Linked DNA regions of Homo sapiens. The protein of the gene in region 2 purifies or fractionates together with the protein of the main gene of each other region. This does not show direct contact. Each region holds a gene or a part of one and is shown on either strand. Other genes may lie near its edges. The genes, in order: GNB4, KCNJ5, LANCL2, ERI3 and MTMR6.

Region 1 (4,525 bases), on a different chromosome or scaffold from region 2:
AATACAATTTTTCCAACTAAAAACTTGATACCAAAAAATGTTCTTCCAACTTTTAAAAAATTTATGCTGCATGCCAAAAATCTTGAACATATTTCATAAAATAAAATTTAGCAACTGACTAAAAATGTCTGGCTATGATTAAACATTTTTGTGGTAACAACATCTTAGTTATACAAGATTTGGGTGGATATTAGCTGACTGGTTTAGTACTTACTGACTTACTTAAATTTCATGACAAGAATGTACATAGAAGCCTAACAACCATATTTCATCCAATCTAAAAACACCAATTGAGAGCCTGAGAATATGACAATACTAGAGGTACAACGCAGGATACATCGCCTGCTCTTGAGGCCTCTACCATCTGGTGAAGATAAGACATTTACTCATATTTATATTAAATCAAGTAAGTAAAAACTGTCAGAAGAGGGGTATAAAATAAATGCCACAGGAGAGTAAAGGAGGAACAATGGCTAGATGAGTTAATCACAAGAGAATGAGTCTTGAAAGAAAATGTTGAGAGCTAAAGATACAGAAAAGGCTGTATTTTAGGAGAAAGCTATGTAAGATCAATGACAGGTAGAAAAATACACTGAGTGTTGTTTCAGGAATTGTGGGTCTTCCAGTAGTACAGTTTGTGAGAAAATGGAAAAATAAGTTGAGAAAAGCAGACTGGGCTTAAACTGCAGAAAGCTTTGTTAAACTAAAGAGTATGAACTCCTAAGTAATTTTAGCCACTAAATTTTTTGTTTTGTTTGGATTTTTTTTTTTTTTTTGAGACAGACACTCACTGTGACACCCAGGTTAGAGTGCAATGGCACGATCTCAGCCCACTGCAACCTCCGCCTCTCAGGTTCAAGTGATTCTCCTGCCTCAGCCTCCCGAATAGCTGGCATAACAGGTGTGCACCACCACGACTGGTAAGATGGGATCTCAACATGTTGGTCAGGCTGGTCTTGAACTCTTGACCTCAAGTGATCCACTCGCTTGGCCTCCCAAAGTTCTGGGATTACAGGCATGAGCCACCATGCCCAGCCTTGTTTGGAATTTTTACTTTTCACCATGGTGTAAAATTCAAAAAATAAAAAAGGATATACAGAAGAAAATTTAAAAAGCACCTTCCTGGGCCTATCATCAGCCACCCAGTTCCTTTCCCTAGAGGTAAATAACATTATCAGATTCTTGGGTAGCAATCACTACAAGGTTTTACAAAAGGGAAGATCTATCTGATAGTGGGGTATAGGATGGCATCTAAAGAAAATTCTTTAGAAATCAATTGGCATCATCAGCATAAGAGTTGAGGAGAACATTAAGTAATGGATTGATAACACGGATGGGTGGGAAGACTATGTGAGATAGGTTCCTGGATGATGGTTTCATTTTTCTATGAAGATTAACAGTCTTCAGAAAACGTTTAAGGAAAGCAAGAACCATAAACATTGTTTCAAGTTACTATATTTTAAGTTAAAATTTTGCTTTATCAACAGGTAAATTATTTTTATCTTCAACTCCTTTAAGAAAAAGAATAAGACATTCGGCCAGGCGCGGTGGCTCACACCTGATTAATCCCAGCACTTTGGGAGGCTGAGGCGGTTGGATCACCTGAGGTCAGGAGTTCAAGACCAGGCTGGCTAACATGGTGAAACCCCCTCTCTACTAAAAATACAAAAATTAGTCAGGCGTGGTTGTGGATGTCTGTAATCCCAGCTACTTGGGAGGCTGAAGCAGGAAAATCCCTTGAACCTGGGAGGCAGAGGTTGCAGTGAGCCGATACCACACCATTGTACTCCAGCCTGGGCAACAAGAGTGAAACTCTGTCTCAAAAAAAAAAAAAAAAAAGAAAAAAGAAAAGAAAAAGAAAAAGATTAAGACATTATGTCAGTTGCCAATTATATAATTTTATGTATCCCTTCGTAAGAGGCACATGTTCTATATTATTGTGGTCAAGTATCCCAATTAGAGCAACAATTGAGGCTTCTTCTACTTTATAATTTTAGTGTCTCCTGGGAGAAGAGAATAAATGTGCAACTTCTATTAAAACATAGAAGTTTCTTGGTTTAGGCATTTCCCATTAAGATTAACCAAATCAAAGGAACAAGTAAACCACTGTGATAGCAGACACATCTGCTATTGCCAGACAATGGAAAAACATAGGCTGTGCTGTAGCCTTATACACATAGTGAATGACAGTGATGAGCAATCTATCTAACTGTAGGCCACGTAGCAGCTGTGCGTGTGCCTGTGCACCTGCAGATGGTCAGCTTGCACATTCAAGCACACACCTTTCTGTGATGCAGTCGAGGGAGTAAAAGATGTATTCAGTACAAACACCTTTGTTTCATGTAATTTCCATTATTTGCGAATTTATGTAATAACAAACTATAGCAATATCCAAAAACTTGCACATAGGTGTTCAATACGTATTTGCTTATGAACTGAAATTTCAAGCTTCATATACAGTAAAAACGCTTTGTGCCTATTTAAAAAACAAAGAATGTCTGCAATGTTCCACTGCAAAGAAAAGGAATCCTCTTCTGAACAGTTGTCCTGGATTCCATATTAAAAATGTTTATACTTTTAAAGAGTCAATTAATATTCTTATTGAAAGCAGCATGTTCATCTGAGATGCATTTTCTGCAAACGCTTCATGAATATATTCTGTTTTTAAACAAAGAAAATGCAAATGATGGTTCTTAATGAAAATAATTCTGCAACAGTTTAAAAATGACAGGTAATGACAGGTACAAACCTGGAATCGTATCCCCAATGCATAGCATAGATTTTAGCTAGGTGGCCCCTCAGTGTACGTCTTGTTCGCATTTGTATTCGACCCACAGAGTCCATATTTGATGTAATCTTTTGAAAGCAACAAAAATGTTATTCTTTACCTTAATCATAGTTCATGAGATAACTTGAACTAGAAACAGTGAGGAGTTAAAAAAGCAAACATAAAGTACATTTATAGTAACTGAAGGTAATTTAATGTATATAATTCCACAGAGCCGTTATGGGATCAATATGTTCCTGAAAATTATGATTAGTTTAAAATAATCCTATGTGCTGTTATAAATAATATACATAAATGTATAATAAGAATGCCTTCTGCAGACTATTAACTAAAAAGAATAGATATACCTCTATGCTTTAGTAAAAAACCAGCCACAAATAAAAATCTAGAGGCAAATGATCACAGTAAACATTTACAATTTTAACTGTAAGAAAGCCAATTTTATATTTGTAGAGCACATAAAATACTTCCTTAATAATAATGATCAATATTAATTAAACATGAAGCCTTCCCAAGATTTTTTAAAAATATTAGTCTTCTTGACCCCTCTTACTATCTCATTCCCAACCTAAGAGTTTTCATAAGGAAAAAAACACTTAATCAGGGTATACCAAAAAGAATCAGAAACTATTTAAAAAGAAGCATAAACTATATGAATCTATACATACATATATATATACATACATAAATATATATAATTTTTTTTTTTTCGAGACAGAGTCTCACTTTGTCTCCTGGGCTGGAATGCAGTAGGGATCTCGGCTCATTGCAATATCTGCCTCCCAGGTTCAAGCGATTATCCTGCCTCAGCCTACCAAGTAGCTGGGATTACAGGCAGGCACCACCATGACCAGCTAACTTTCATGTTTTTTTTTTTTTTCTAGTAGAGACAGGGTTTCACCATGTTGGCCAGGCTGGCCTCAAACTCTTGACCTCAAGTGATCCTCCCACCTCGGCCTCCCAAAGTACTGGGATTACAGACATGAGCCACCATGCTTGGCCTTGAAAATATATATACATATATATATATATATTTTTTTTTGAGACGGCGTCTCACTCTTCTCGCCCAGGCTGGAGTACAATGGTGCGATCTCAGCTCACTGCAACCTCTGCCTCCTGGGTTCAAGTAATTCTCCTGCCTCAACCTCCCGACTAGCTGGGATTATGCCCAGCTAATTTTTTTTATTTTTAGTAGAGATGAGGTTTTACCATGTTGGTATAGCTGGTATATTTTTATAGCATTTATTTTTCCATAGATGTCTATTTTAACAATATATTTTAAAAAGCACTCGCACTGTATAGCATTTGACAAATTACGAAGTGCTTTTACACAGAGATTTCATTTAACTTTTTTCAATTAAGCACTAATACAAGAATCTGAATGTCATTTGCCTCTATGTCAAATTATTTTATGAGTTACCAAAATGAAATAAAGAAAAACAAAACTTTACCTGAACAAGCGTTGCATCATTACATGCTTTCCGAGCATCCTGAAGTAAAAAAATATGATTATAATGCATTTAGCAACCTGTGGAATGACTAAAGTGATACTTTTATTGAAAACGTAGATTTGTGAATTTACTTCTCACTGTACCACATCTTTAAAAATTTTTTTAATTGATATAAAAATCACATAACCTAAATCAAACCATTTTAACCATTTTAAGGCATGTAATCCAGTAGTTTTTAGTATCACAATGTTGTGTGACCATCACCACTAATTACAGAACATTTACA
Region 2 (4,525 bases):
ATCCATCCATCCATCCATCCATCCATCCATCCATCCAATTATCCATACATTCATGCATTCCTTCAACCATCCAATCACTCATCAAGCATTTCATGAACATCTACTTTGTGCTAAGCATAGTGGAAATGTAAAGCTGAATAAGACACAGTCCTTGCCCTGGAGGAGTTCAAGGCGTAGTGGTGGCAGAAAATTAGAAATCGACATGCAAGATTCTGAAAGTCATTTCCTAGAGATTGGAGTGAATAGATGTTGGAATAGTTGAAGGTAGGGACTCCGTTCCTGAAAACAGCATTCAGGTCTAGAAGATTAAGATGGGAAAAAAGGCAGGAAAGGGCAAAGATAAATTCAGCATGAATGAACACGGAGAATCTGACAGGCATTTGGAACATATGGGGATTGTTTTGGGCGGACACATACGGAGAGAGGGCTCCACACTCACATACACACACACATACACACAGGAAGAGGAGCAGACGCACACACAGAGCTTGGCTTCTTGATTTGAGGCTGCTCCAATGCCTCGTTTCCCTGTCTACTCAGCCCGTGCCATGCCTATGCTATTTTTAGGTGTTGCTTTCTCTCCAGAGAGGAGGGCAGCTTTGTTTATGGATGAGGAGGCCTCTGTGCTTAGGGTCACAGGAAAGCAGCTTTCTGATATTTAATCTTCTGGCCAAGGAAGGCATTAACTGTGTTGGTTGGGTGCTGAAGGCAACCGTCTCCAGCTCCCACTTTGGGCTTTCTCTGGGAGGGGCTCATACAAAGCAGACCCAGGTCCAAGGCTGCTTCTCAGCCCCAGCGCACCCACACAGGTGCGCCCACAGCCTGCTCTCTGCTCTCAGTGATGCCTGCCTGGGCCGGGCCTCTCCCTTCAGTCGTTACCCTTGTTGTCCCCACAGCCTTGGCAGAGAGGCCCAAACCGGGCCCTGAGCAGCCTAGACCATGCCAGACGTCTGCAGCCTCCCAGGGCCTTGGGAAAGGTATGGGCAGGACCTTTCCCCTTTGGGATCCTCCTGCTCCTCATGGGGTGTGGCAGCGGCTGCCCTGTAGCTAGAGATCCTGGTGTGTCCCTGTCATTGCTCAATACGTTTGGAAAGGATTCCCCAGGTGTCAGGTATAGTGATCAGCACAGCTCCTTTTCATCTTGAATCCTCCCAACAGCCCTAAGAGATTGATTTTCCTCACTTTGCTGACAAGGTAAGCAGCTTGCTCAAACCCGCTCAGGCAGGATACGGCAGAGTTGTGCTACTCAAGCTGAGGCATGGATTCCCAGCCCACACCTGGCTGCATGTGCTTGACAACCAAACCACCCACATCCAGGACAGATGTGGGCCAGGGTCTCCTGCCCTATCTCCCTGGATCTCCCCTACAGTTTGTGGGACAGAGCAAGCATAGCCCGGGTTGTGGGAGGGGAAGGAGGCCAAACCGTGAGGACAAGTGAATGGCGGGCCCCTGACTTTGAGGGAGGTGTGGTTGGGGGTGCAGCGGGGCAGCGGGGCAGATAGCACTGGCTCCCTCCACTACGAGCCTGTGGGCGCTCTCCCTGCTGCATGGCTGGGGAGTGAGGATGGCCTTGGAGAGTGGTCAGGTGTGCTATGATTTGACCCCATGTCTCTCACCCAATCCCTTTTTTGTGGCTTCAGAGTGGAGTTCTTCCCCTGAAATGCAGCCTGTGTCCTGATTCTGACCCTGGAGGCAAGGGCAGGGTGACCTGCAAGCCCCTAGCTCTGTGGGGGAAACCTTCCTGAGTCCTGACTGTCCTCGGCCCCGGGGCTGCCCACCTGCCACCATATGCTGCCTGCCAGACTCCAGCCCCCAGCAGATGGCCGAGCAGCCACCTCTGGCACCAGTCCCTGGAGCTTGTCATTGCCCTCTCCTGGTTCCACCAACTTCAAAATGGGAAGGCTTGTGCAGTCTGGGTCTGAGTCCCCTGCCCGGCAGCCAGCTTCCTGGGGGCTGGAATGTGTGCTTGGCCATCTTCCTGACAGGCCGCTAGTATTTTAGTGGGGCAGAGTGGTGAGAGAAGCTCCAGATTTGTAAGTGGAAGAGCTGAATATGAACACTCACTGTCTACATAATGCTTTTTAGGTTCAGCCTCGACATCTGTAAAATGAGACTGAAGCCAGCCCTACACTGTCATTTGCAAGAATTGGAAAAATAGACATGCATCATTCTGAGCGTGACTGAGTTTCTAGAACCCATCCTTAGGGCCTGACCAGCTGCTCATTGTACCTGGTTGAAAAAAAAAAGAGAGAGAGAGAGAAAGGAAGGCACGAGGAAGAAATGAAATATGCAGGATGTGGGGTTTTGCTGCGAGTGGGGTGGGGACTAGGGTCCTCTGCCAGAGTTCAGGCGGTCCCAGGCCTTGGACTCCCTGGAGCCACCTCACAGAGGTCTGCCATGGCTGAGTGGCTGAGGAACTGGGGGGTCCTTGGCTACCAGCTGCTGGTGAGTCAGTAGCTGAGCAGGGAGGTGCCATGCTGGCCACACAAAGGGCATTTTCTTGGGCATACATGGATGTTGATGCCTCAGCATGGATGCACTGTTTTTTTGTGAGAAAGGAGCCTCACCTGCCCTGCGTTCACTAAACCAACCTTCTGCAAGAATGCTGAGGGCTGGCTGCCCCAGAGGGAGCCCAGCCACAAAAGCCCTTCCCCTGCAGCAAAGGTCTCTCCAAGTAAGGGGTTGGTGAGAACCTTTTGAGTTTAGGAAATTCTGCATCCCCTCCTCTCCCAGTGATGAGACTCAGTGGGTAAGGACAGCGAGAAGTCCACTGTAAAGAAACCAGTTCGCTTTTGTTTCGCCCTGTGATTACCAGAGCTATCTGACCAGGGAGCTCTTCTGGGTAGAACACTTGTTCCAAGAAGGGGCAGTTTGTCCTGTTGGAAACAAGTGCTGGCTCTGGGGTCCCTGGTCTCAATTTCCATCCTAGCTCTATCATTCGAAAGTGCTTGCTCTTGGGCAAATAATTTAGCCTGTCTGTGTCCCTGTGTCTTTATCTGTACCTTAATAAAAACTATCTTGGCTGGGCACTGTGGCTCACGCGTGTAATCCCAGCACTTTGGGAGGCCGAGGCAGGTGGATCACAAGGTCAGGAGTTCGACACCAACCTGGCCGACATGGTGAAACCCTGTCTCTACTAAAAATACAAAAATTAGCCAGGCGCAGTGGCGGGCACCTGTAATCCCAGCTACTCCAGAGGCTGGGGCAGGAGAATCGCTTGAATCCGGGAGGTGGAGGTTGCAGTGAGCCGAGATCGGGCCACTGCACTCTAGCCTGGGTGACAGAGCAAGACCCTGCCTCAAAAATAAACAAATAAACAAAACAACAACAACAATAACCCACTATATCTCATAGGGCGTGGGAGGACATTTGGCCAGATGATAGATGTTTATTGTTTAGGACAGTGCCTGAAAGTTGGGAAGTTCCTGTCAGTGTTAGCTATTGCTATTACTCAATCTTGAGTACCAGTACCCCTCAAACCACAATTTAGGGATTGAATGTGTTGCCTGCGCCACCCCAGGACTCTCAGGCACAGACCTGCATCTTCTGGAGTCACAGTTGCCTAAGTCTGAAGTGTAGGTAGGGCCACCTGTGGCTGAGGAGGACAAAGCGCCTTACCTGTGGCTTCCACCATCCCTTCTAGAATGACCACAACTTCAAACTCTTCCTGATGCAGCTGAGCCTGAGACATCTCCCAGAAAGGGCTCTTCTGGTTGATCTCATGGGAGATGATCAGAGGAGACACAAGGAAGAGGCGGTCGTCGCCCGTGTCAAAGCCCACGTTGATGTCTGTCTGGTTCAGGGGGATGAACTCCCCCTCTTTGGTCTGCCGGGACTTGATGAGCTTGGCCCGGATGGAGGCCTCCACGATGTGGGAGTTGCGGAGGTCGCCCACCCGGAACATGAGGCACAGCTTCTCGTCCCGCATGGAGATGACTGCGTTGTTGGAAAACATGAGGGTCTCCGCTCTCTTCTTGGGCTGGCTGATCTTGACAAACATGCACCCCACCATGAAGGCATTGACGATGGAGCCCAGGATGGCCTGGACCAAGAGGAGTATAATCCCCTCTGGACACTTCTCTGTGATGACTCGGAAGCCATACCCAATGGTTGTTTCGGTCTCAATGGAGAACAGGAAAGCGGACACGAAGCCACTGAGGTTTTCAACACAAGGAATCCACTCTTGGTCGCCAACATGGTCCAGGTCACCCCGGATATAAGCAATGAGCCACCAAATGAAGCCGAAGAACAGCCAGGTGACAGTGTAAACCATGGTGAAGACGAGCAAGTTGAAGCGCCACTTGAGGTCCACCAGGGTGGTGAAGAGGTCACTCAGGTACCGGTAGGTCTCCTGGACGTTGCCGTGGTGCACGTTGCACTTGCCACTCTTCTCCATGTAGCGCTGGCGTGGCTTCTTGCCCTCGGCCAGCAGGCGCGTACGGTCTGTGGCAATGGGGACATAATCGCGGGCCTGTTTTGGAATCTTCTTGGGGTCCCAGGGAGTGACTCCAATCTCCATGTCCTG
Region 3 (4,525 bases), on a different chromosome or scaffold from region 2:
AAAATGTAAACAAATTTTTCATTATCACATTTTATACTCTAATACAAATAAGCTATGTCTATAATAATGCTAATAGCTATCATTAACTCAACTCTTACTATTCACCTATGTATCAGTAACTATGTGTACCTAGGTACTAACTGTACTCAGCACCGTTCTGAATGTTTTAAATGTATTAACCTAATTAGCCATTATAACAATCCAGTGAGGAGGGGGTGGTTATATTACATCTACATTATTAAAAGCTTTAGCAAATACGTTATATTACAACTATGTTATATTAAGAACCTCAGTTAGCCTTTCAATTTAACCATTTACATCAAGTTGATGAGGTAAGAAAACCAAGGTTCAGTGTGTGGTTAAATAACTTGCTCAAAGTCTACAAGTCATAAATGGCAGAAAAGTAGGAGTCAAACACAAGACTATTAAAACTGTTACCTGCTCTATGCTACAATTTATTTCCAAAAGATGGAAAATGCTCATGTATAATATCTTCTTAGTTCCCTCTCCATAATCTTACCATTACCCTTCCACGTCAATATCTTTCCACATCAGGAACTGAAAACTGGCTGGAGGTTAATTAAGTTCATATTAAAAGAAAATTTAATAAAGCTACATGTAGAACAGTTTTCCTCAATGCTTCTCAAATTTATGAGTACTCTGGCATGAGGATCTTGTTAAAATGCAGACTGTGGTTCCTTGGGTTTGGAGTGGGATCTGCATTTCTAACAATCTTTGAGGAACTGCTTATGATTTAGGTCCACAAACCTCACTCTGAGAAGTTGTAGAGTATATTACCCCACCTTCCACCTGACACACACACACACACACAATTTAGTTCATTTTGAATAAAGAGAAAAAAATTACATTTCTCTGGGTATTAGGGTAGTACTGATTTCCTTATGCTTCCATGATATATTATGAGGTTAAACAAATTTTAAAGCTTCAAAACAAAAATATGGAAAATTAAATAATTATAAACTGAAGCATTTCCAATAGCTTAAGATTGTATCAAATTACAGACAAGTTTTCCTGATTTTTTTCTGTGGAAAAAGTTGTAAAGTCCTTTGGATTGACCAGAAACTATAAAACTCCTACAAGAGAACATGGGGAAAAGCTCCTGGACACCGGCCATAGCAATAATTTTTTGGTATGACACCAAAAGCTCATGGCACAAAAGCAGAAATAAACAAATATTACTATATCAAATTAAAAAGCTTCTGCACAGCAAAGGAAACAATTCTTAAAATGAAACAGCAGCATATGAGCTGGGAAAAATTCCTTGAGCCCAGAAGTTTGAGACCAGCCTGGGCAACATGGTAAAACCCTGTCTCTACAAAAAATACAAAAACTAGTTGGGCATGGTGGTACCTGTCTGTGGTCCCAGCTACTCAGGCAGCTGTGGTGGGAGGATAATTTGAGCTCGGGAGGGAGCCACAATCATGCCACTGCATTCCAGCCTACAACAGAGTGAGACCCTGTCTCGAAAAAAAACAAAACAAAACCCAAAACTATACAGAGATAGAGAACAAAACAGTTATTACCGGAGGCAGTGGGTTGAAGGAAGGAGAGGAAATGGTCAGAGGATACAAAATGGAAGATATGCAGGACAAACAAGTCTAGAGCTCTAAGGCACAACATGAAAACTACAGGTAATAAAAATGCACTGGATGTGGGATTCACGCTAAGTGAATAGATTTCAGCAGCTCTGGCCACAGAAAAAACAATGGGTAATTATGTGACATTGGGAATATATTAATTTGCCTCTCTATAGAAACCATTTTACTACCTATATGTATCACATAACACCATGTGGTATACCTTAAATATACAATTTTAAATTTCATTTTAAAAGAATCCTTCCAATCCATCAAGTCCTTCAGCATCAACTCCAATCACTGTCTTCGGCCTCAATACTCCCCAGTGCCATTCACGCTCCCTCTTCTCCAGTCATGCCGTACTCCTTGATATTCTCATAATGTGGTATCCCTTAAGTCCTTGCTCATGGAGTTCCCTAACTGAGCCTAGAAAACCCCCACTTAATCTTTCAAGGACCATGAAAGTATCATTTTAGTCTAAAAAGCCTTCCCTGATGCGAATGGGCAGAATTAACACGTCTTCTTTCTTCTCTTGTGCCCCCAAGATATTCTTTACATATTGTCACTTACTGTAATACTCATTGCAGGGTTCTGGAGGCTACACCTAGCAATGGTGCAGTATCACAGCAATTTCTCTCCCAACCAATGAGGTATGGCAATGACCTCTCTGACAAGTTCAAGATTTCAGCCCTGGCTGAGGACTCTACAGTTCATGGTATTTATGCTCCTGTATAACCCCTCCACTTGAGCGTGGGCTGGATTTACTGTCTTGCTTCTAATAGAATACAATATGGCAGGTGTGATGGTATGTCACTTCTGAGATTACATAATAAATACAATGACTGCAGCTTCCATCTTGGGTGCTCTTGCATACTTTTCTCTTTGATCACTCAGTCTCAGGGAAGACAGCCACTATGTCATGAGGCAGCCCTAAGGAGCAGCCCATGTGGTTAGACACTGAAGCCTCCAGAAAACACATAGCAAGGCCGACTAACCACCATGTGAATGAGCCTGGAGCAGATTCTCTCTCCCAGTTAAGCCTCAAAATGACAGAAGCCCTGGTTCAGAGCTTGAGTGCAGCTTCTCCAGAGACCGTGAGCCAGAACCACCCAGCTAACCTGCAGCTGGATTCCTGACTCTCAGACACTGCATGAGATCGTAAGTGTTTATAAAGATGCTAAGTGTTGGGATAATTATTACACAGCAACAGAGCTAATCACAGGGGCCTTTACTCGAGTGCCCTCTCAGCCCTAGGGGTGGGGCTGCTCCTTCTGTCTGCTATTCCTACACTCTTCAGAGTTCTCTTTCCTTCTCATGAGACAATCTCTTGTTACTCCAGTCTCACAGTTCATAACAATTCTTTAAGTTAAACTTTCCCTATTAAACTCTGCATGGTACCCATCTCCTGGTTGGACTTGAACATCAGTTGAAGCTGCTGCTGCTGCTGGTCAAAGACATTAATCATGATTCAGCTCCTAGAGCTGGGCTCAATTCCCCTTAAGTCCACGGCCACAACAAAATCAAGTAAAAAGGAGGAAATGGCTGTTAGATGAGTAACTAAGAGTGTCTGCGTCACAGGCTTTCCATAATTAAAAACAACTGCTACTACACTGGTTCACTGCTTTTCATAATATTGGCCCAATATTGTAAAAAATGTTATAAATACCAATTTATGGAAATATGGCCCAGAGAAGCCGACTTGAGTGGTTTTAGAATCAGAGGATAATTTTATTGACTGATCACACCACATACCTAGGCAGCCAAACTAAAATGAGATAGAGTGAATGACTTAAAGAATACTTAGTAATAAAATGTTATTGTGTTGGTAGATTTTTGTAATCATTACTCGGTAACATCATGGAGAGAAAATTATTCAATGCTTAACTTACAAATTAACAAGTTACCCTAGGGATACCACAAAGTTCAACAAACTGGGTGGCTTAAAACCACATAAATTTATTTTCTCATAGTTCTGGAGCCTACAGCCCCAAAATCAACGTATCAACAGGGCCATGCTCTCTGTCAAACTTACAGAGGAGAATCCTTCCTTGCCTCTCCTAGTTTCTGGTGTTGGCTGGCAATTCCAATCTCTGCCTCCATCATCACATGGCCATCTTCTTTCTCCCTATGTCTCTTTCTTCTCTTTTACAATTCTTTTTAAAAAAGAGACAGGGTCTCACTATGTTGCCCAGGCTAGTCTTGAACTCCTGCCCTCAAGTGATCCTCCTGCCTCAACCTCCCAAAGTGCTGGTATTACAGGCATGAGCCATCATACCTGCTTCTCTTTTCTTCATATAAGAACACCAGTCATATTGGATTAGGGGCCCATCATATTCCAGTATTACATCATCTTAATTACATCTGCCATGACCTTATTTCCAAATGTCACATTCTGAGGTTCCAATGGGTTAGGACTTCAACCTTCAATACCTTTTTTTCTGGTGGGGGACACAATTCAACCCATAACACCCTCATTTTCATGAAATTTCATGTCTATCAAAAACAGTGCATAGTGTGATATCCTCAAATTGCATTCTTAACAGATTTTTAAAACCAAAAATTTAATGTCAATCATAAAAAATATTAATAGGGAAGACAGTGTTCAACTCATATTCATTTTATCTGATGACTTTCCAATAACCAAGAAGCAATCTTTCCACCTTTTAAAATCACTATCCATCTCTCCCTTCAACGTGCTCTCATTTTCATATTCAAGAATAATATGATGTCCATTTCTTTCTTTAGCATATACTCACAACCACTGGCATAGGTCCCCACCCCAACTTACATTTCATTGCAGAGATATCACAAGCCCCATTAGTTACTTGTAGTCTAATTTTCTTTTCAACATAAATCAGGTATATAACTGAGGTCAAAAATCACATTTATCCAGATACAAAGGCTAAAAAGAAAAATACCCAATTTCA
Region 4 (4,525 bases), on a different chromosome or scaffold from region 2:
ATCCCTTCCTGAAAAAACCAACCATGACAGACAAACCCAGTTTATCTTTAAATGGACCACACTCCTCCCTACCTTCGAAGTGCCCGATGCTGAGGTCCCCTTCTCTCCCTCCTCCTTACGATTGAAAGCTGTTCCCAGAGCAACATGTCTATGCATCACACACTCTATAACCTAACCCTATAGAGAAGAGTTACAGTCCTAGAGCCAGACATATTCAATGCACCAACACTACAATGAACTGCTACATCAGCCCCCAATCATTCCCTCAAAGCAAACACCACATACTTCAATATCACCTGCAGCTAATCCAAGCCTCCTAGCAGCATTAACTTAAAAGCTAAAAGGTCTTTGAACACAGCTGGTGACTAATGAAAAAAAGCAAGCAAAGAAATTGTCCTTTCCAACAGACCAACAATGGTACTTGCTCAGGTTATCTAATGCTGCATAACAAATCATCCCAAAACCTGTGGCTTAAAACATCAATAATCATTTGTTATCCCTCACAGTTCCTGTGAGTCAGGAATTTGAGAGTGGCTTAGCTGGCTGGTCTGGCTCAAAGTCCCTCCTAAGGTTGAAGTCACATGTCCACCGGGGCTGCAGTCATCTGAAGGCCTGACCGGGGCTGGTAGATTCACTTCTAAGATAGCTCATTCTCATGACTGGCAAGTTGGGCACTGGATTTTGGCTAAGAGCCTCAGTTCCTACACACATGTGCCTCTCCACAGGGCTGCTTGAGTGTCCTGGCAGCATGACAGCTGGCTTCCCCCAGAGCAAGTGGTCCAAAAGAGCAAAGTGGACTGCAATACTTTTTATAACTTACCCTCAGAAGTCGTACATTATCTCTTCCACTGTATTCTATTAGCTATACAGGAATATCTTTGATTCAGTGCAGGAGGGGAACTACCAAGGGTGTGAATAGCAGGAGTTAAGAATCATTGAGGTCATCTTGGAGGCCAGCTACTATAGCACTCCTTAAAGGAACAAGTGGCAGTAGCAGGAGAATGGAGGAAAGAAGAGAACAGAGAAAGGAAGGACGGGAGAAGGAAATATTTTGATTCCCAAAAGCTGAGACTAGAGAGAAACAATGTACCCAGTTCTCTCCAGAGACTTCTCAGGTCTACCTTACACTAGCATACCTGAAACAAGTCCTGCTTCCTAGACAGGAACTCTAAATGAGTAGCTAAAAGACAGGAAGGCATGAGAAAGCTCCTTTGTGTCCCAGGAAGCAAAACTATCCTCCCTCCCTCCTTGCCCCCCCCACCTTTTCTAAAGCAATGATGGAACAGTTACCTGAGGATGAATCTGTGGCTTGTCGCACGTGGCCTCAAAGTCCAGCACTAAAAAGTAGTGATACCTCTGGGGAGGGAAGGACACCATTGCCGCCATGGATGCGCCAAAGCCGTGGGCCGCCAGCTTTCTGGTGGATATGGAGCAGAACTCCGGAACACCACAGGGAGAAAATAAGTGGGAGCCCAGCACTTTTCTTGCTCTTGAAAGTAAATACGAAGAAAATCGAGCTGCTCCAGTCTGTAAAGGTGCTAGCATTGAACATCCAGAAGCATCTAAAACTTAGGGGAGGAAAGTTTAAAAAAAAAAAAAAAAAAGAAAAGAAAGAAAAAAAAAAAAAGAACAGAGAGCCTGGGTTACTCCCTCCCACTGTGGCCCTGTTCCATCTAGTCTTCAGGAATATCCACGCAACATGGGCCACTCCCCAGTGTTTCTGGGCCCCTTTTCTAAATCATAGTATTCGTTACTAAAGTTCAAGACCCTAATAGCAGCACCTGCAGCATTATTACAGCTCTGAGTCTCCCAGATCATTCTCAAAACAACATGCAACACTGGCCTGCATCTTTAAATGGAGCTCTAAAGTTCAAAAGAGAGAAGAGAGAAAAATTGTGCAGTCACTTCTCAGGTGGCAACAGTTAACATTAAAGCTATGGGTCCAAAGTAACGTGAGGTGACCCTGTTGTACAATGAGTCCTGGAAGCTAAGTAGACTCAGACAAGCAGCAGAAAATGTCCAAGGTTCTTTTCTCAGCTCCACTAGGAGCCATTTGCCCCTGGCTTTCCAGTCTGTATCTTGATGTCTCCACATACCCTCCTCCCCTCTCCCAAGGTGAAGGCAAACAAAGCGAATCACAGGGGTTTGCTCTGACATTCTGGTGATCCCCCAACCCCCACACTAGTAAGTGGCACCCTGGGGGAATGAACAGTGCCTGGAGAGCACAGCTGGCTGCAGCCTTAGGCCTTCTCATTTGCTGCCTTAGACTCGGTCTCTACTCGAGGCCCTGAATGACTGCGGGACTTTTTAAATAGGGAAGAAAAAGAAAACCCAGATGTGGCAGTAATAGGAACATGGCTAAAAGTCTAGTAAAGTTTTCTGAGTGAACATGTGCAAAAAAAAAAAAAAAAAAATCAAATCACTTTTCCTTTAAGTTTTCCCCTTAAATTTGCAGAATGCCTGCTCCTCAGAGGCCTAACTAAATACAAAAATCAAAGCCTAAGTTTTACTCACGAATAACTCAAACTTCCTTAAAAAGAAAAAAGGAACAAAGCAGAAATGTTGTCTTTCTCCCTTTAATACTCAACATTCAAATTTCTCTCAACTTTAATCCTCAAATAAGAAATCTCACTGTACAATACAGTAATGGCCATAGTTTGTGCTTTCCGAAGCCTCATTCCAACACAACCAAAGGCTTGCCTCTGATGGCTGCAAGTGGGCACCTGGCTCCCTTCACATAGGGTAGAGGGATAGCACCCTGTGAAGTCCAGCGCGTACTCAAAGGCAATGAGGCCACTACCACCTGAACAGAAGCAGATAATGCCAAGTATGGCTGTCTTCCCATCTCTCTCCTGACTCACTGAATGAGCTACAGTAACTTGCCTATATATATAGTAGGATATACGCTAGTGTAGGTCCTCAATTTCCCTATCCCTATAATGAGATTTCAGGGGGATTCAGTGGAGCTAAGACCAAAAAATATTTTAAGTTCTTCATGGATCCTGCACAAGCACAGCACTTGTTTTCACCACTGCTTTATAGCCTCACCAAAAATACAGCCAAAACTCAGCCCAGGTAGACAAACGCTGGCTTGAGTTTCAATATGGAGTCTCCTGGAAGGGCAAGAGGGCCAATATCCCTTTGAAAGCCAGAATCTTCTCATCGCCTATTCCTGAATAGTACTGGAAGCCTTAATGAGATGGAAGACACCAGTCTGCTCAAATTACCCATTCTAGTTTGGATCCAAAGTCCCTCAAGGACTTAGACTCTTCTCTAACCCCATAAAAAAGTGTAAAGACTTCTGAAAGTCCTAATGTTCTACAGTGTGCACAGAATATGCGTAGTATATACAGTCAGTCAATCCTGTCTACCAAATACTATAAGCAATTAAGCATGATGAGTAAGGAGGGCTTCCAAGTTTGAATCCTAGCTTTACCACTTACTACCCATGGCACCTTGGGCATGCTGTGTTCTTCAATTCCTCATCTGTAAAATGACAATAACAATAGCACCTACTCCTTAAGTGAGAACAAAATGAGACAACACATGTAAAGCACTAAGACCAGTGCCTGGCATATAACAGCCTAATATATATTATCCTAATGTTATTACTACTATCCTATTGGGCTATGCCCACCTGGCCAAGCCTGGATCCCCAGATTCTGGGCCTACAAATCCAATTAATTCATAAGGCAGCCTCAGAGAGTAATATCGATGTCTTCTGCAACCCTAAAATGCTCCAGACCTCTGACAGAGCATACTATATATACCCTATTCTGATGGCCAGTGGTCCTCTTGCCTGCAGGCCTTGCTTTCTCACCTGATTTCATCTACATCAAAAAGCTTCTTTTGGCCAAGCACAGTGACTGCACCTGTAATCCCAGCACTGTGGGAGGCTGAGGCAGAAGTATTGCTTGAGCCCAGGAGTTCGAAACCAGCCTGGGAAACATAGTGAGACCCAATCTCTACAAAAAATAAATTAAAAATTAGCCAGGCGGGGTGCTGCATGCCTGTAGTCCCAGCTACTTGGTAGGCTGAAGTAGGAAGATCACTTGAGCCCAGGAGGTTGAGGCTACAGTGAGCTGTGATGGAGCCACTGCACTCCAGTCTGGGTGACAGAGCAAGACCATAATTCAAAAACAAAACAAAACAAAACAAAACAAAAAAACTTCTCTCGTAGGAAGTCTTGAGAGTAGACATTAGGAGGTCAGGCCTCCACATATCAGCAGTTACTGGATTCCACACTTCCCTTACTTCTAACAACCAAGCTCAGTTCAAGTCAAGAAACAGAGGGTAGCTCTTCCTCTTCCCTTCCTGAAAAACTCAATCCTAAAGCCATTAGGTGCAGCAGAAGAGGGCAGATATCTACAACGGGTGGAGTAGGGTGAGCCAGAGAGGTCTGGGGGACACTGTCAGAGCCCAGGCAGGGTGAGGAAGACATCCTTGCAGAAGTGGGAAGGTGTGGTGCAGCATGTCAGAGCCGAGGGGGATGTGGAGAGCATCCATGTCGGCTGGCAGTCTGATG
Region 5 (4,525 bases), on a different chromosome or scaffold from region 2:
ACTAACACTGAAGTACTAAGAAACTATTAGGATCCTTAAATTATAGGTATCATCACAGCCAAAAAGTAAATGAAAAAAAAGAAAAAAAGACTTTGGGAAAAGAAAGAACAAACGAAAAACGAAAATGTGGCAAGGAGAAAGGAATTGGAAGATGTCGCTTTGGTGAGGAATGGTAAATGCCAACACACATTACTTTAAGGACTATTTAGTTGAATTGTTGCCAACTATGGGCCTGCACTAAAAGGTACCCTAATGGTCCAGGCAGAAAGTTCAAATTTCAGCCAATTATAAAATTAGAACTGGAAAACACAGAGAACCCCACACATACAGAATCACACTCAGAAAATGTTGGGGCCACTACAGGTGTAGTAGCTTACGCTTGTAATCCCAACACTTTGGGAGGCCAAGGCAGGAGGATTGCTTGAGACCAGGAGTCTGAGAACCAGTCTGAGCAACATAGTGACACCCTCATCTCTACAGAAAAAGAAAATTATTTTCTAATTAGCCAGGCATGGTGGCATGCTCCTGCAGACCCAGCTACTTGGGAGGTAAAGGCAGGAGGATCGTTTGAGCCCAGGAGGTAGAGGCTGCAATGAGTTATGATCATACCACTGCACTCCAGCCTAGGTGACAGAGCAAGATCTTGTTGGAAAGGAAAGGAGAAAGACAGGAGAAAGGACAAAGAAGAAAGGAGAAAGGAAAGGGGAAAGAGAAAAGAGGAAAGGAAAAGGAAGGAAAGGAAGAGAAAAGAAAAAAAAGAAGAAAAGATTCCAAATGAAAAACACAGGGAGTCACACAAACAGAATCACATTCAGAAAATTCAGACACCTCTTTATCCCTGAGGAAAAAGTGGCCTCTGGGACAGGAAGGGACCAATGGCCTTCTTCAGACTTCTGTGACCAACAGTTGTACTTATTCTACAACTACATAACAATAGACGCTGTGGCTACTGAAGCAGAAAGTGCACCATCACTGTTCCTCTGGCTTGTCGCACTCCTTCCCTATAGCCAGGCACTCATCTAGGACTCTCAGAATCATTTCACACTGACATCCTGCCAAGAATTAGCTTTCAAAAAGAAAGCACATCAAGTTGTGTGCAGGAAGTGGAGGGCAGAGATTATGGTTTCTGTTCATGTATCCCAATTTCTAGAACAGTGTCTGGCTGCATAAATTATCAAATGAAACAGTCATGGACCTCAAGAGGGGAGAGAGTAACCTCAGATCGTAAATCCAGTGGGCACTTTTCAGTTTTTTCTTACTTTGCTTATTCCATCAATGGCTTCCTATCTCACTCAAAAAAAGCAAAGATTTTACAGTGGCCTTCAAGACTACAGTAACTTGCCCCTGTCCCCCAACTTTAATCTTCTACTGTGCTCTTCTTCACTCACCCTGCTCTAGCTGTCTTGCTTGTTCTTAGCAACCAGGCATGCCCTCAAAGGGTTTTTGCCCCTGTTGTTCCCTTTGTTGGGACTCTCCCCGCCATCCCCCATGTGGGGATGGCTTACTCCCTCACCAGTTTCAGGTTTATACTCAAGAGTCACCTTCTCTGTAAGAGCTTCCCTAACCACTCAATTTATAGCAGTCCTCCCTTAAACCCCCTCCTCAACCCTCATACTCTTCAGAGCCCTGGCTTGCTTTATTTTTATCCACAGCATTTACCACCATCTAACATACAATACATTGAACTTAATTTTGTTTATTGTTACCTCTTCTCCAACTAGATAAGTTATAAGGGCAGGAGTTTTTGTCTGAACCTAGAACAGTGCCTGGCCCAAGGAGGAGGAAGCAGCCAGAGGATGGAGCAGAGAAGGAAATTAGAACACGGAAGACTGTCACCTTCCCATCTGTGCTTCACCTCTTCCAAATGCATCCGGCTTCTCCTCCTCTGCTTGCTCGCCCTCTTCTTTTTTCTTTTTTCTTTTTTCTTTTTTTTTTTTTGAGACAGAGTGCTGCTCTGTGACCCAGGCTGGATGCCGTGGCACGATCTCGGCTCACTGCAATCTCCATCTTCTGGGTTCAAGTGATTATCATGCCTCAGCCACCCAAGTAGCTGGGATTACAGGTGCCCGCCACCATGCCCAGCTAATTTTTTGTATTTTTAGTAAGACAGGGTTTCACCATGTTGGCCAGGCTGGTTTCAAACTCCTGACCTCAAGTGATCCTACTGCCTCGACCTCCCAAAGTGCTAGGATTACAGGTGTGAACCACCATGCCCGGCCTGCTTGTCCCTTTTTAAGTGTTTAGACTTTTCTCCACAGAGTCTCAACATATTCTCCTTGCATAAACTCATTCACAATAGAAATTTCAATGATTTACCTAAACACAAACAACTCCCTCCCAAATCTACTCAAGGCCAGACCTTTTCCCTCACACTAGATCCTCACATTCAGCTAGCTACTAGAAAAAAATCTGACCACCTAAGCTTCTTCTATCCACCCCTCCTCTCTGTTCTTACTCACACTGCCCCAACTGACTAATCAAATCTCTTGATTAGATTATTATTCTGTGAGGCAAGAGAGTGTGGTTAAGAGAATAGGCTTGCTATCAGAAAGACCTACATTCAAGTTCCCACCTCCACCTCTTCTTTGGTAGAACTAACTGTGTGAGCCAGGACAAGTTATTTTATTAATTCTCTCAGGGTTTCAGTTTCCTCACCTGTAAAATGGGATAGTATTAGTGAAAATCAAAACAACACTTTACTTGGAAAAAAGCATTCAGGTGCTCCTCAAAACCTATTGGCTTTTATTTCAAAGACAATTTAAATAATATCAGTTTCTCCTTATTCTTGATCCATTCTTATTTTTATATCTCCTTTCTTCTTTCAGAGGGAAGGTATATTTGTATACATACATAGATGATCTCACATTCTAATGACAAAAAGAGGGAGCAAGCTAAAGAACATGTTAGGCATAACTTTTGGAATAACTCAATTTGGGCCTTAGTAGGATCAGATTTTTATGGGACATTCCATTTGATTACAAACGCTAGCAATCAGCCTTTCATTTATAGCTTAAAAAAGGTTCTTCCATTCCATTCAGTAAAGTTCCATTCACAGGTAAGACAATATCATTTGACATCAATATATAATGTCAGCCAAAGTACTGGCAGGGAAAGGAGAAAGACTGCATAAAGAACTGTCTCTGCATATTTCTCATTGTTTCTTGGCAGGACTATGTCATTATGGCAAAATGAGAGCTCAAAGCGATAGGTAGTAGCTGCATGATTCATAAGTGTAGCTTGGAAATGCTCTTTCAGAAATCCAGATTCAGGGACTTGGCATCTTTGATGCTATACAGTTAGTAAACCAAATGTGACCAAAACAGAATGATAAATATGTTCATTAGTATTCAGCTAAAATACTTAATCTGATAAATCTCTGGTTAGCAAGCAATAATGATCCTAAATATTATTTAAAAACAATACCGCATAAATATTATTTATTTATGACAAAAAGAGGTTTGGGGGGGAAGCTCTTAGAATTATCATCAGCATTTATTTCTGAATTAATACTAATGCACATTTAACAATTAGATTAAAACTAGAGAGGCACTGGAAAGAGCATACATAGTCTTTGGAGTTAAACACACCTTAGTTTAAATACTAATTCTATCTCTTGTGAACTAATTGAGCAGGTTACTTAAATTCTCTAAGCCTATTTCCTCCTCACCTATAAATGGAGATAATACTACCCAACTGACAGGGTTATTTAAGAGATCAGTGATGATAATGTATAAATTAACAGATTTATACAATTGTACATATTATAAAGTAATAATATTGTATAATTGGCTATATTGACATATAGTTGCTCAATAAATGGTAATTATTACTTTTCAAATAGAGCTGACTGAACAACAAAAATCACTAAATAGTCATAAAGGACACTCTACGGTCAATTTTGATCCTAATGACTAAACTACATAGAGGTCAAAACAGCTAATAAATCTAAAACAATCCACTTTTGCTTTTTAAATACTTACACTTATTTTTGCAGCAAACTAACTAAATCCAGGTGAAGGCTATGCATAATGGAAACAAAAGTTTGGCTATGTTCAAACCAATCTTTTAAAAGTAAGTTATTTCCCAATACATTAATAATTTAAGAACATGTTACAGTCCCCACAACAATTAACAGAATGTACCCTGAGGTCCACCTCTATCTTGCTGTTATATACCCAGTGTCAATACAGTGTCTGGCACATACTAGGTACCTAGAAAATATTTATTTGCGGTCTACATACACTCACTTAATATTACTCCAGAGTAGTGATCCAATACTAGAAAAACAACCCAAAGTAATAAAGGAGCATATTTGAAAAGTAGTTTTAATAGACAATTCATCAGAAATTTCTTAGTCTCTAAAAAGGCCTTATTAAACCACTAGCATGAGACCACTGTGTAAAGATAAGTCAAAATCAGAGCATTACTTGAAGAAAAGTTCATCAGTTGGTAGATAAGGAGGAATATCAGACAAAATGAAAGTCACCAGTGACAACTTTCAAAGAGCTAATAAGAGGGGCTACAA

What was found.
Region 1: the proteins of KCNJ5 (region 2) and GNB4 purify together in Homo sapiens (affinity purification with mass spectrometry; one large-scale study listed by BioGRID and IntAct). This does not show direct contact.
Region 3: the proteins of KCNJ5 (region 2) and LANCL2 purify together in Homo sapiens (affinity purification with mass spectrometry; 2 studies listed by BioGRID and IntAct, with this or other methods). This does not show direct contact.
Region 4: the proteins of KCNJ5 (region 2) and ERI3 purify together in Homo sapiens (affinity purification with mass spectrometry; 2 studies listed by BioGRID and IntAct, with this or other methods). This does not show direct contact.
Region 5: the proteins of KCNJ5 (region 2) and MTMR6 purify together in Homo sapiens (affinity purification with mass spectrometry; 2 studies listed by BioGRID and IntAct, with this or other methods). This does not show direct contact.

Annotation. Positions count from the first base shown.
Region 1 is NC_000003.12:179,416,650-179,421,174, forward strand, and holds part of GNB4 (guanine nucleotide-binding protein subunit beta-4), read right to left. Parts: intron 4,279-4,525; coding exon 4,240-4,278; intron 2,857-4,239; coding exon 2,750-2,856; intron 1-2,749. UniProt on the Homo sapiens protein: Guanine nucleotide-binding proteins (G proteins) are involved as a modulator or transducer in various transmembrane signaling systems.
Region 2 is NC_000011.10:128,911,304-128,915,828, reverse strand, and holds part of KCNJ5 (G protein-activated inward rectifier potassium channel 4), read right to left. Parts: coding exon 3,619-4,525; intron 1-3,618. UniProt on the Homo sapiens protein: Inward rectifier potassium channels are characterized by a greater tendency to allow potassium to flow into the cell rather than out of it.
Region 3 is NC_000007.14:55,368,217-55,372,741, reverse strand, and holds part of LANCL2 (lanC-like protein 2), read right to left. Parts: intron 1-4,525. UniProt on the Homo sapiens protein: Necessary for abscisic acid (ABA) binding on the cell membrane and activation of the ABA signaling pathway in granulocytes.
Region 4 is NC_000001.11:44,337,755-44,342,279, forward strand, and holds part of ERI3 (ERI1 exoribonuclease 3), read right to left. Parts: intron 1,569-4,525; coding exon 1,291-1,568; intron 1-1,290.
Region 5 is NC_000013.11:25,280,687-25,285,211, forward strand, and holds part of MTMR6 (phosphatidylinositol-3,5-bisphosphate 3-phosphatase MTMR6), read right to left. Parts: intron 1-4,525. UniProt on the Homo sapiens protein: Lipid phosphatase that specifically dephosphorylates the D-3 position of phosphatidylinositol 3-phosphate and phosphatidylinositol 3,5-bisphosphate, generating phosphatidylinositol and phosphatidylinositol 5-phosphate.